2 linked regions of the Homo sapiens genome follow. The protein of the gene in region 2 purifies or fractionates together with the protein of the main gene of each other region. This does not show direct contact. Each region holds a gene or a part of one and is shown on either strand. Other genes may lie near its edges.

What was found. Proteins that work in one complex are often made in the same cells at the same time.
Region 1: the proteins of NGB (region 2) and MPP2 purify together in Homo sapiens (affinity purification with mass spectrometry; 2 studies listed by BioGRID and IntAct, with this or other methods). This does not show direct contact.

The regions. Positions count from the first base shown.
Region 1 is NC_000017.11:43,876,537-43,883,584, forward strand, and holds part of MPP2 (MAGUK p55 subfamily member 2), read right to left. Parts: intron 6,820-7,048; coding exon 6,667-6,819; intron 6,517-6,666; coding exon 6,367-6,516; intron 5,976-6,366; coding exon 5,748-5,975; intron 5,054-5,747; coding exon 4,922-5,053; intron 4,814-4,921; coding exon 4,708-4,813; intron 4,623-4,707; coding exon 4,554-4,622; intron 4,349-4,553; coding exon of another isoform or gene 4,317-4,348; coding exon 4,155-4,316; intron 3,449-4,154; coding exon 3,246-3,448; intron 2,868-3,245; coding exon 2,739-2,867; intron 1,448-2,738; coding exon 1,271-1,447; 3' UTR 1-1,270. UniProt on the Homo sapiens protein: Postsynaptic MAGUK scaffold protein that links CADM1 cell adhesion molecules to core components of the postsynaptic density. In CA1 pyramidal neurons, required for synaptic KCNN2-containing channel function and long-term potentiation expression.
Region 2 is NC_000014.9:77,264,983-77,268,206, forward strand, and holds the end of NGB (neuroglobin), read right to left. Parts: intron 1,689-3,224; coding exon 1,554-1,688; 3' UTR 501-1,553; downstream 1-500. UniProt on the Homo sapiens protein: Monomeric globin with a bis-histidyl six-coordinate heme-iron atom through which it can bind dioxygen, carbon monoxide and nitric oxide.

The sequences.
Region 1 (7,048 bases), on a different chromosome or scaffold from region 2:
GGGTATTATAAGAAATGAGGGCTGATGGGGAACCCCCAGAAAGGGGCCCCAAAGAGTGACCTCCAAAACAAAACCCTTTGCTTCCTCCCCAAATTAAACCTGACACACACACACACACACGCACGTGCACACGCACACACATACACACAACCTGGTGCCAGAGGCACAGACAGGTGCCGAACATGCACGTGGAACCACAGGTTGTACAGACTACAGTGTAAATGGCGCCTCTGGAGTTGTGTGTGAGGAACCTCCTGGAGGGCAACTGTCCTTCAAGCCCAGGCTCCCAAGGTCCCCTCTGCACTCCTCCTTAGCCCCTCCAACCCAGCAGCCCTGATGCAAGTGGGCTACCTGGACCTGGCTAGACAGAAAACCAAATGGACCAAGGTCAAGGACATAGAGCTCAGACCTGTGCCTGCTGTGGGCCATGGAGAGCTTGGGGCTCTTCAGTTGGTAACAGCAGGTTGTCACAGGGCTCAGCCCTCCATCCTGCCCCTACCTGGGCTGAGCCCACTGGCCCCTGCCAGCCTGGCCCTGTGGGGAGCAGGGCTGACCTGTCAGGACACATTGGAGAAATCTGGAGAAACTTCGGCAGTGAGAAGCTGTGGATGAGGGAAGGACCGAGCAGCATCTGCCCTGCGACCCTGTCCCTTTCCAAAGGAGCTGGGAGCTGCAGTGCTCTGCAGCTGTGGCCACTAGCTCTCACTCTGACTCCTCCAGCCTTCAAGATGGCACCAGGCTGGCACCACCACCCGGGCCTGCCTGGCTGCCAGCGGGCCACACATTCCCCTGGTCACACGGAAACAGCCCAAGGCCTGTTCCTCCGACACAGGGGTGAGAGGTGGGAGGAGTCCAGGAATGGGGTGGGTGTGGCCAGTCCAGAGGAGAACTGGTGACTGGGGAGGGGTGGCAGGGGGCAGTGTGCCTACTGACCATGTGGTCCCAAAGCAGCTTTTCTCTTCTCTGTACTGACCATTATGGAGGTGACTCTGACACATTCCTGGGCATAGCTTGGCCCTCAGAGATATCTGGTGACCAATGGGCATCAGGAGTGGGCAGCACCTGGGCACAAGGTACCCCATGAATGCCCACCTCCCTGGCAGTGCACGCCTCTGTGCTGAAGCCAGACTTAGGGCCTGCTGGGAGCTGTTACCCAAGGACAGCCAGATATGGGGGCTAAGGATTGTGGCAGGGGGTCACAGGTCAGGAGGGGGATGGATTCAGGTTCTGGGTTTCAACACAGAGTGAGCCAAAGACCAGGTGAACAGGCTCAGTACACCCAGCTGACAGGCACCCACTGGGGCTCTGTCCGTAGCTTCTCCATGGCTGTCTGGAGCTCGCGGAAGGTCCTCTCCAGGTTGCTATTGACCAGGCAGAGGTCAAAGTAGTGCCCGTAGCCCCGCTGGATGCGGCTGCTCTCCTCCACTGTCCGTCTCAGGTCCGCCTCCTGCCCAGGCACAAGGGGACCTCCCTACAGTCAGTGCCCACAACTCACCCCCACTGTCAGAAGGAGCTACAGCTGCCCCCACTCCCCCTCCCCAAAGCCCAACCCTGGTGTGGACTCCCTGGCTAGGGAGGCAGGGGCCCCTCTCTGCGTGCCTCAAAGTGGCTCACCATCAACCACAGATGGTGAGTGAAAGGGAGGAAATAAGCTTTAATAACTGCCAATCACACCCCTAAATGCTTTGCATGCCACATAATCTTCACTACAGCTCTGCAAGATAGGATTAATTCTTTCCCATTTATAGCAGAGAAAATGAAGGTATAAAAAGGTCACATAGCCAGTCAGTGGCTAAACAGGGTCTGCCTGACTCTCAAGCCAGTGCTCCCTCAAGTCTGACTAGGCTGCCTTACCTATGCAGCTAGACAGGCTGGTACCAGGGCAATCCACAAGTACCCAGGGCAACCCCACCCTCGACCCAGTGGAAGCTGGATGGGCAGGGGTGAGGAAGGGTACTTGACAACTGACTTAAATAAGCTGAAGCTAGCTGCATCCCAACAGCTCCAGTTGGCCACACCTGTTGCCAAGGAGGAGGTGCCCAGAATGGGGATCAGGCAAAGGTCCAGAGCTCCTTAAGGGGGTCATTGGCAGAAGGGTGCCAGCCTAGACAGCCTCTCCTGGGCCCCAGGCACGCTCTGACCTGGGGCCGGAATGCTGCAGCACCAGGCATGGCCAGCAGAGGGACCCCTGCGCTCAGAGCGCCGCAAACCCTCCACCTCCTGGGAAGGCGCAGCAAGACATAGGAAGGAGGATGGGGCTGGAGTTCTGCAATGAGGCCTTGAAGCCTCTCCTCCAGGCGCTGCCTGCTCCCTGACGCTGACTCAGCCCTCCAGCCAGCCTTCCCGCCTCTGGCTTTCTCCTACCCTTCAGCTTTCCCCCAGCTGTAAGCAACCCAAGCTCACCTGGCCCACCTCCAGCCCACCTCTCCCAGTTGCCCTCGGGAACTCTCTCTGGCCAGCACTCTGTCTCTGCAGAGTGGGCTGAGCCGGGGGCCTTGAGTCAGAAGCACATGTATCCCAGGCTAGGTGTGTGCCTGGCTCACTCTGAGACTTTGGACTTCCTCTCTCAGACCTCCCCTTCCACATCTATGCAGGGGGGACCACGTCCTGCCTCACTGATAACTGGAGCAGGCCCCTGTCCCTCCCCAACACCACCTCCTTCTCTCTGTCAGCTCAGGCCTGTCCCCCACCACCCTAGGCAGCTATCAGACCCCTCCCCCACACCTCAGAGCCCTCACCGTGAGCTGCTTGGTGGATATTCCACTCTCCAGCGCAGCCCTGTTCATGGCCCGCAGGGTCTCGAAGTCTGGGGCCTCGATGAACACCACGTAAGGGACAAACTCGGCCGTTCGTAGCACCTTCACCGCCTGCAGAAGGAGAAGGCAAGGTAGGGAGTATATCCCCATGTCTGTCCTAGGAACCAGAGAAAGGCTGTGAGGGTAACTGGGGTTGGGGTGAGCACTTGGGAGTGGATGAGAAAAGGGTGCCCGGGGGTCTGGGACATGAGTCCTGGGACAAATGACAAACAGCTGGCAGGTGGCTGGGGTGACTGGAGGAGACTAGAGGAGGAGTGGGGACTCTGGAAGGCTGAGAAAGGTTCCAGGTGGGCTGGGTTTCTAGCAGTAGTTGAGGGCAAAGGGGGTACATGGGCGTGTTCAGGTGACAGGTGTCTGGAACTATATGGGGGAGCAATGAGGCAGCAGAGAGGACATTGGGCAGGCTGGGAAGGAGCAGAGTGGCGGTACCTGGGGGTTGACATCCAGCACGCACACCTTCCCAGCAGCGACCACGCCCCGGATGGAGTCAATACGTGTGCCATACAGGTTGCCCTCGTATTCGCCATGCTCCAGGTAGCGCCCAGCACGGACGTCAGCCTCCATCTCCCCACGGGACACAAAGCTGTAACCCTGACCTTCCCGCTCTGAGTCTTTCGGCCGCCGGGAGGTGTCTAGGGGGATGGGGGTAGGTTGGACCAAATGGGCAGGGGCAGGTTACAGTGCCTCAGACACATATATGCACCCCTACCCAGGCCCCCGTTTCCCAGCCTTGGAGGTGCAGTCTGCTCCCCATCTTGCCAGCACTGCTGCCTTTGCACACACCTGCCCCCCACTCTCCCCATTGGCACACACAGAGACATGAGCTGGTAATCATGGTCCAGCCCAGAGCCCACAGAAGAGAGGCTGAGGTCCAGAAAGGGCAATGTACAGCCCAAAGCCACACAGCAAGAGCCAAGCAGACCAGGGCAGTGCTCTTAGTCCTGCCTCTGGCAGCCAGGAGCTTCCACCACCCCCGCTGTTTCTGCCACTAAGAAGCCCTGTCTTCCACAAGGCTACACACATGCAGCTCGTAGCCTGTTTCACCCGGGTGCACAGCTGGGCACTCACTTTCTTCATGGCTTTTAGCAAGTGAAACAAGAGAAGGAAAGTGGACGCCAGCCCAGCCCGCTAGGCCACCTGTTGGCTGGACACCTCCCTCACCCTTCCTGAGCCTGAAGTTCCCCTAACCACCCACAGAGGGCGTGCACCCCAACCCGTGTACCCAAAGGTACCACCTGGCCTGGTGCCCATGAAGATGCCCATTCGGTGGGCCCAGCCCTGGCCCCAGGGGAGCCCTGCTCCTTGTCCCCAACTCAGCAGGGCCCAGCTCCCACTCACAGGGCACCGTGGTGCCATAGCGATCTGGATCCCACATGATGAGCTTGTTCTTCAGGCTGCGCCGTCCCACGCCCTGAGCCCCAATCAGTACCAGGGTTTTCCGGCGGAACGGGGGCATGCGGGCCACCTCCTCATAAATGAGCAGCTCATGACGGTCAAACTCTGGACACAGGGAGATGGCGCTGCTCACCAGGCTGCACGGTGAGGGAGGGGCGGAGCTCTCAGGGAGGCTGAGGGCAAGAGGGCTTGGAACAGGGGAGCAGGGGGGAGTCGGGCAGGGCCTAGGGACACGGCTGGCAGCATCTGAGCCAGGCACACGTCGTCACAGGTGATGGGTGGGGACAGGGAAAGGCATGCCATGTTAGAGGAGGGTAAGGGAGGGGGCGCTCTGATACCCACCTGCATTCTTGGTGGTCAAATACATCATTCGCTTCTTTTTCTTTCCTGAAAGGCTGCCGCATAGGGTCCCTGGCCATAGGGAGATGGGTGAGTGAGGCAGACAGGGCCCTGTTGGATCCCAGATTGGAGGTGTGGGGTAGGGGGGACCTCCTACCTGAGTTTGGTGTCAGCTCCAGGTCCCTCTTGACAAATGCTTTCCGCTTCTCCTCCAGCAGCTGGCTGGGAATGAGCCCAGCACTGCCCCCTTCGACATGGCATGCCTAAAACGGACATGAGACCAAGATCTGCCTGAGCAAGAGGACCCCTCCCTGTGCCCTCGCCCTCCCATGCACCATACCTGGAGAGATGCGGGGGTGCCCGCAGCTCACCTGCCACCAGTTGGCATCATCCTGGTTTACGATCTGGAGCAAGTCCCCGGCGTTGAAGCGCAGGCCTGCTTCCTTGCAGGGGATGAGGCTGTCTCGGGCCGGGTCATAGTCAAAGTGACATTTCACAAATACCTGGGCCCAGGAATCAGCAAAGGGTCGGGGGAAGGGTCAGCAGAAGGCTGCAGGTGGAGGTCTACCCCATGCCCCCTCTTTTCACAGAGACTAAGGGGCAATGGAACTGTCCCCCTGCAGGAGTGATGCCTCCAGGCCTGCCCATGCTCCTCCCTGGTGCCAACCTCCCTTTGCATCTAGTACTACAGGATTCAGATCTCAGGACCAAGGATGCGGGACCACCAAGTAGGGCACAGGACCCTGGCACCTAATCCTGGATCCCTCCCTCCACTCACCCTCTCCCCTTGGAGAAGGGCTCTGGTGGAGGGCGAGAGACCCAATAGGATAGGGAGACAGAGCAGCCACACCCCCAGAATTGACCAACCAGGAGACAGCTATCCAGGACATATGACAACCCCACCCTGCGCACGCGCACAAACGTGAAGAACGCTGACCATAATGCAGGCGCTCTCTCATACACTTGTACCCCAGGCTGTGGCTGCGTGCATAATACCAGCCAATGTGGGAGCATGTGCAGGTGCAGCAGCGGCAGAGGCCTGTCGGCGGCTGCGGTCAGCTGCCCCTGGGCTGCAGGTCCCACCCCCATCTTCCCTGGAGGAAACCAGTAGGAGAGGAGGGCCTCCGTGAGACCTGCAACCTTGACAGCCAGGAGGCTCAGCCATCCCTTGGGCCTTGTGCTGGGTGAGGGGCCCACCTGGCGGGGCAGATGGGGCTCCTGGTAGCTGGGCAGGATCTTGAGGATGACACTGCCACTGGCATTGCGCAGGAGCTCCTGCAGTGCGCGGGGGTCACTGCCCACTGGCTGCCCGTTCACCTCCTTGATGATGTCACCCACATGCAGCAGGCCTTGTTGAGCCACCATGCCCCCATGCAGAATGCGCGCGATCACCAGCTCGCCGCCCTCCACGCGGAACGTTACACCCTGGAGGTCAGAGGGAGTGTAAGATGAGGCCCCAATTGCTCCAAGTCAGAATCTTCAAATAGTCTCCTAATAGCTCCTCCATTCCTGTCCCTACCCACCCACCCCCACCCTCACAAAGTCCTCCTCCATCCTTCTGCCTAAATTCTTCACTTACAGCAGGTACTAATGAGGGGAGAGGTGGGCAGACTGGAGAGGTGCGGACACAGGTGTGTGTGCAGTGTCTATGGTCTCCTGGGTCTTCCCCCGACCCTTTGCTGCATCAATCCTTCCCTGCACAAAGCTGGCCCCATCTTCATCTTCAGACCACACTTGGCCTTTTTTGTCCGTTCATTGGTTATTCTCAATCCCCCCACCCTCACCAGCACCACCTCTGGCCCTGCCCAGTCCTCACCAGATGTTCTCCGGCTGTCTTGCGGATGCCCACCATGCGCACAGCATCGGGAGGTACAGGCTGGTTGCTGAATGTAGGGTCCAGGCCAGGGCTGGGGGGTGGTGTCTCATAGGTCTTTGAGGCCACAGAGTCGTGCGTCTCCAGGAGGGACTGGGGGGTGGTGGGAAGAGAAGGGACAATGGGGCAGTGTCCCGGGTCTCTTCCCATCCCAGATCCAACTTCCTGCTGGCCCATCCAACAGCAGCATGCCCCAGTCCACCCACCTCCTGCTCCCTCACCCCAGCCCTAGCAGCCAGGAACCTGGAAGTGGGGCTCCTGGAGGATGTGGGCCAGCTCGGCGGCTGTGCTGCTCTGCTCAGCCAGCTGCGCCAGGTCCCGCAGGATCTCCTGCACCAGCTCCAGGTTGTTGTCTCTCACGGCCTCCAGCTTCGTCTCCTCCAGCCTCTCATGGGCCTGGGGGTGGAAGCAGAACAGGTGGGGCTAGGAGCTTCCCCAGGAGCCCTGGGACACCAAGCAGGGTCCTCCCTCAGCCCCCAGGCATTTTCCCCATCCCACCCCCCAGCCCCCAGCTTCAGCTCCTCACTCACTGACAATCATACCCACACGTGCACATGCATTCCTTGCTGTCTCCTTTCTTCCCCAAAATTACTAGGACCTAGTTTAGGGAAGGAAGAAACCAAAG
Region 2 (3,224 bases):
TGATTCTGATTAATAGGCACCTTCCTCCAAGCAGCGATTCAGGGTCAGGACTCCTTTCACCTGTGGCTCTGCCATGTTCAACACGTGGCCCTCATGGTCTCTGTGAGGTCTGTATCACACCAGCAGAAGGATGACAGAGCATGGAGGAGCATGCAGGAGTTTTGGGGGACCAGGCCTCGGAGTGGCACACACATCTGCACGGTCCAGCGGCCAGAGCCCAGTCACATGCCCCACCTAATTGCAAGGGTGGCTGCATGACATCCAGCTGTGTGCCCAGGAGGAAGAAGAGCTGGTTTGTGGTCTGCCAGCCAGTTTGGGCCACAGACCCCACAGATGTCTGCCACTGGCTTCCCAGAGCTTCCTCCCAGGCCCCTCCCTCCTGTTCCACCCACTCCAGCCTTGGCCTCCCTGACTCCATCCTCCCATCCTGTCCTGAGATCCACTGCCCTGCAGCTTCATCTGGCACAGGCCAAGACCCAAGAAAAGATCAGGCCCGAGGGTCAGAGAGGCACACAGAACCAGTTTATTTCTCATGAATTTATAGGACCACAGTCAGCACAGAGCAAATGGTACAAGTGCAGATGGCTGGGGTGAGGGCGGGGGCCTCTGCTGCTGCCTTCTCTTCTCTCCAGCTGCCTGAGTACTGGCACACAGCGGGCAGTGAATCTGAGGAGCTGTGGCCTCACAGTCGCTGCAGGCTGAGCCAGAAAGGAGGGCCAGGGGAGGTAAGACTCACTCCTGCAGGAGCGGGTTGGTGATGAAGGGCTGGGGGAACTCGGGTCTCTCTGGGATGAAGTCACCCCTCCTTCCTGGCCGGTCCCCAGCCCCTCCCCACCTGGCCAGCTAGCTGGGTTCCTGCAGCAGCGGAATAGTCAGGGAGTTCCCAGCAGAAGTGCTGAATGAGGGAAAGGGAATGCCGCCAAAGGAAACCGACTCTGTCAGGGCATCTGCACAGCCCGCGAGACTCAAATGAGACCCATTGAGACCCAGGTCCCCCTTCCCTTCCCTGGCAGTTCTGATTCTGCTCCCACTGCCTGGGATTCCACCAAGAAGGCTAAAGCTGCTCTTTCTCTTTATTTGTGAAAAGCAAGCCATCTTGGGGCAGGAAAGCAGTGAAGGGACTGGGCAGGCAGGACAGAAGGCGCTGGAAGCTCAGCCATCTCACCCCCGCCTTGGCCTGCACTCACCTGAAGAAGCAGGACAGACAGAAGAGCCCCATCCTCTCCCACCTCCATACCTTTCCAGCTCATCCCACCTCTGCCACCAAAACACTCATCGCGGGGTCAGAGGGAGTGCCAAAAAAGGTAAAAAGAAACGCAAGAAAGAGGCTACTGGGGATGAGGGGACACCCAGAAGCCCCTTCCTGGAGGAAAAGCCACTCCTTCTGCAGCTGGACTCTAGGATACTGAGACCCAGCCCTGCCCCATCACCTCTCCAGTGTGGCCAAGGGGACAAGGACCAAGATGCAGGGAAGCTTGGGGAGCCTGGGCTACAACAGATACAGGCCAACAGACAGACACAGATGGATGGGGGCTGCCGGGCGGGGTCGCCTCTTACTCGCCATCCCAGCCTCGACTCATGGCCTGCACTACGGCCCCGTAGAGTTGGCTCCAGGCAGCCCGTGTGGCTGGTGTGAAGGCAGGGCCCAGACACTTCTCCAGCATGTAGAGCAGAGACTCACCCACTGTCTGCAGAGGCAAGGGGCACCTTGTCACTTCCAAAGGCAGAAAGGCACTGCTCCATTCCACAGGTGAGAAAACTGAGGCCTAGGACTGATTAGGGCTCCTGGGCCTTTTTTCCTCTCCTGCATTGAGTCCATGCTTCCTGAGCAGGGTCCTACCCAAATCCTTGGGTATCACATTGTGTCTACCTTTCCCTCTAAATGTGAGGCTTTATATCCTCACATTTTTCACCCCTGTCTTGGTCTTGCAACCACCCCATGAGTGGGGCCAAGACATTGCCTGGGACCTCCCAGCTTAGACCAAACCAAGTCATTGCTCCCAGACTTGAGTTTCCTCATCTGCAAGGCAGCAATGATGGGGTTAAGAGCCTGGGCTCTGGAGCCAGATAGACCTGAGTACAGATTCTGACTCCACCCTTCATCAGCTGGGTGACCTTGGGTAAGTTATGTAACCTCTCTGAGCCTCAGCTGCTTCATCAGTGATACAGGGAAAGTAGAAGCTCCAACTCCTGGGCCTGTTGGGATGATTAAATGGGATAATCCAGAAAAAGCTCTTAGCACAGCATCTGTATACAGGAAACCTACAATGATAATAGGCCAGGTGCAGTAGCTCACGCCTATAATCCCAGCACTTTAGGAGGCTGAGGTGGGCAGACCACTTGAGCCCAGGAGTTTGAGACCAGCCTGGTAAACATGGGAAAACTCCATCTCTACCAAAAATACAAAAATTAGCTGGGCATGGTGGTGCATGCCTGTAGTCCCAGCTATGAGGGAGGCTGAGGTGGGAGGATCACTTGAGCCTGGGAGGTTGAGGCTGCAGTGAGCTGTGATCACATCACTGTACTCCAGCCTAGGCGACAGAGCAAGATTCTGTCCCCAGAATAAATAAGTAAGTAAATAAATAAATAAAGATAATGGCTCTCATTTGCCATTATTACTCATAATAAAATAAGGTTTATTTATCTCACAAATATTAACTGAATATCCACTGTAGCCCTGGTAGATCAGGCACTATGCTGGTGCTGGGGATGGAGAGGAGGACAAGACCAACACAGCTCCTTCCTCAAGGTGCTCACCATCTGGCAAGGTGACTGGACTGTGTGGTGTACTGTCATATCAGTCGCCCCCAGTGGGCTACACCTCAAGGATTCATGCCCTTGAGTAGGGTCCTCCCACATTGACACTGGGCTTATCCATGTGAGTGGCTTTGGCCAATGGGACATTAGCAAAAGTGATGCAAGCAGAGGCTTTATAGGCACTTTCACACTGGGGCTTGTCCTCTAAAAACTCCCCCTTGGAACTCAGCTGCTATTCTATAAAGAAGCTCAGCTAGACTAGTGAATGACAACAAATCACAGGGACAGAGCTCAAAGGCTGACAGGCCTTGGACATTCTAGCCTCAGTTGAGCTCCCAGCTAAACATAACACACAAGTAACTCCAGCTACACCATGTGGAGCAGAAGAGCTGCCCAGCTGAGCCCAGCCATGAGAAATCGGAAAGCATTGTCATAGTTCTAGGGTTGTTTGATACATAGCAATAGAA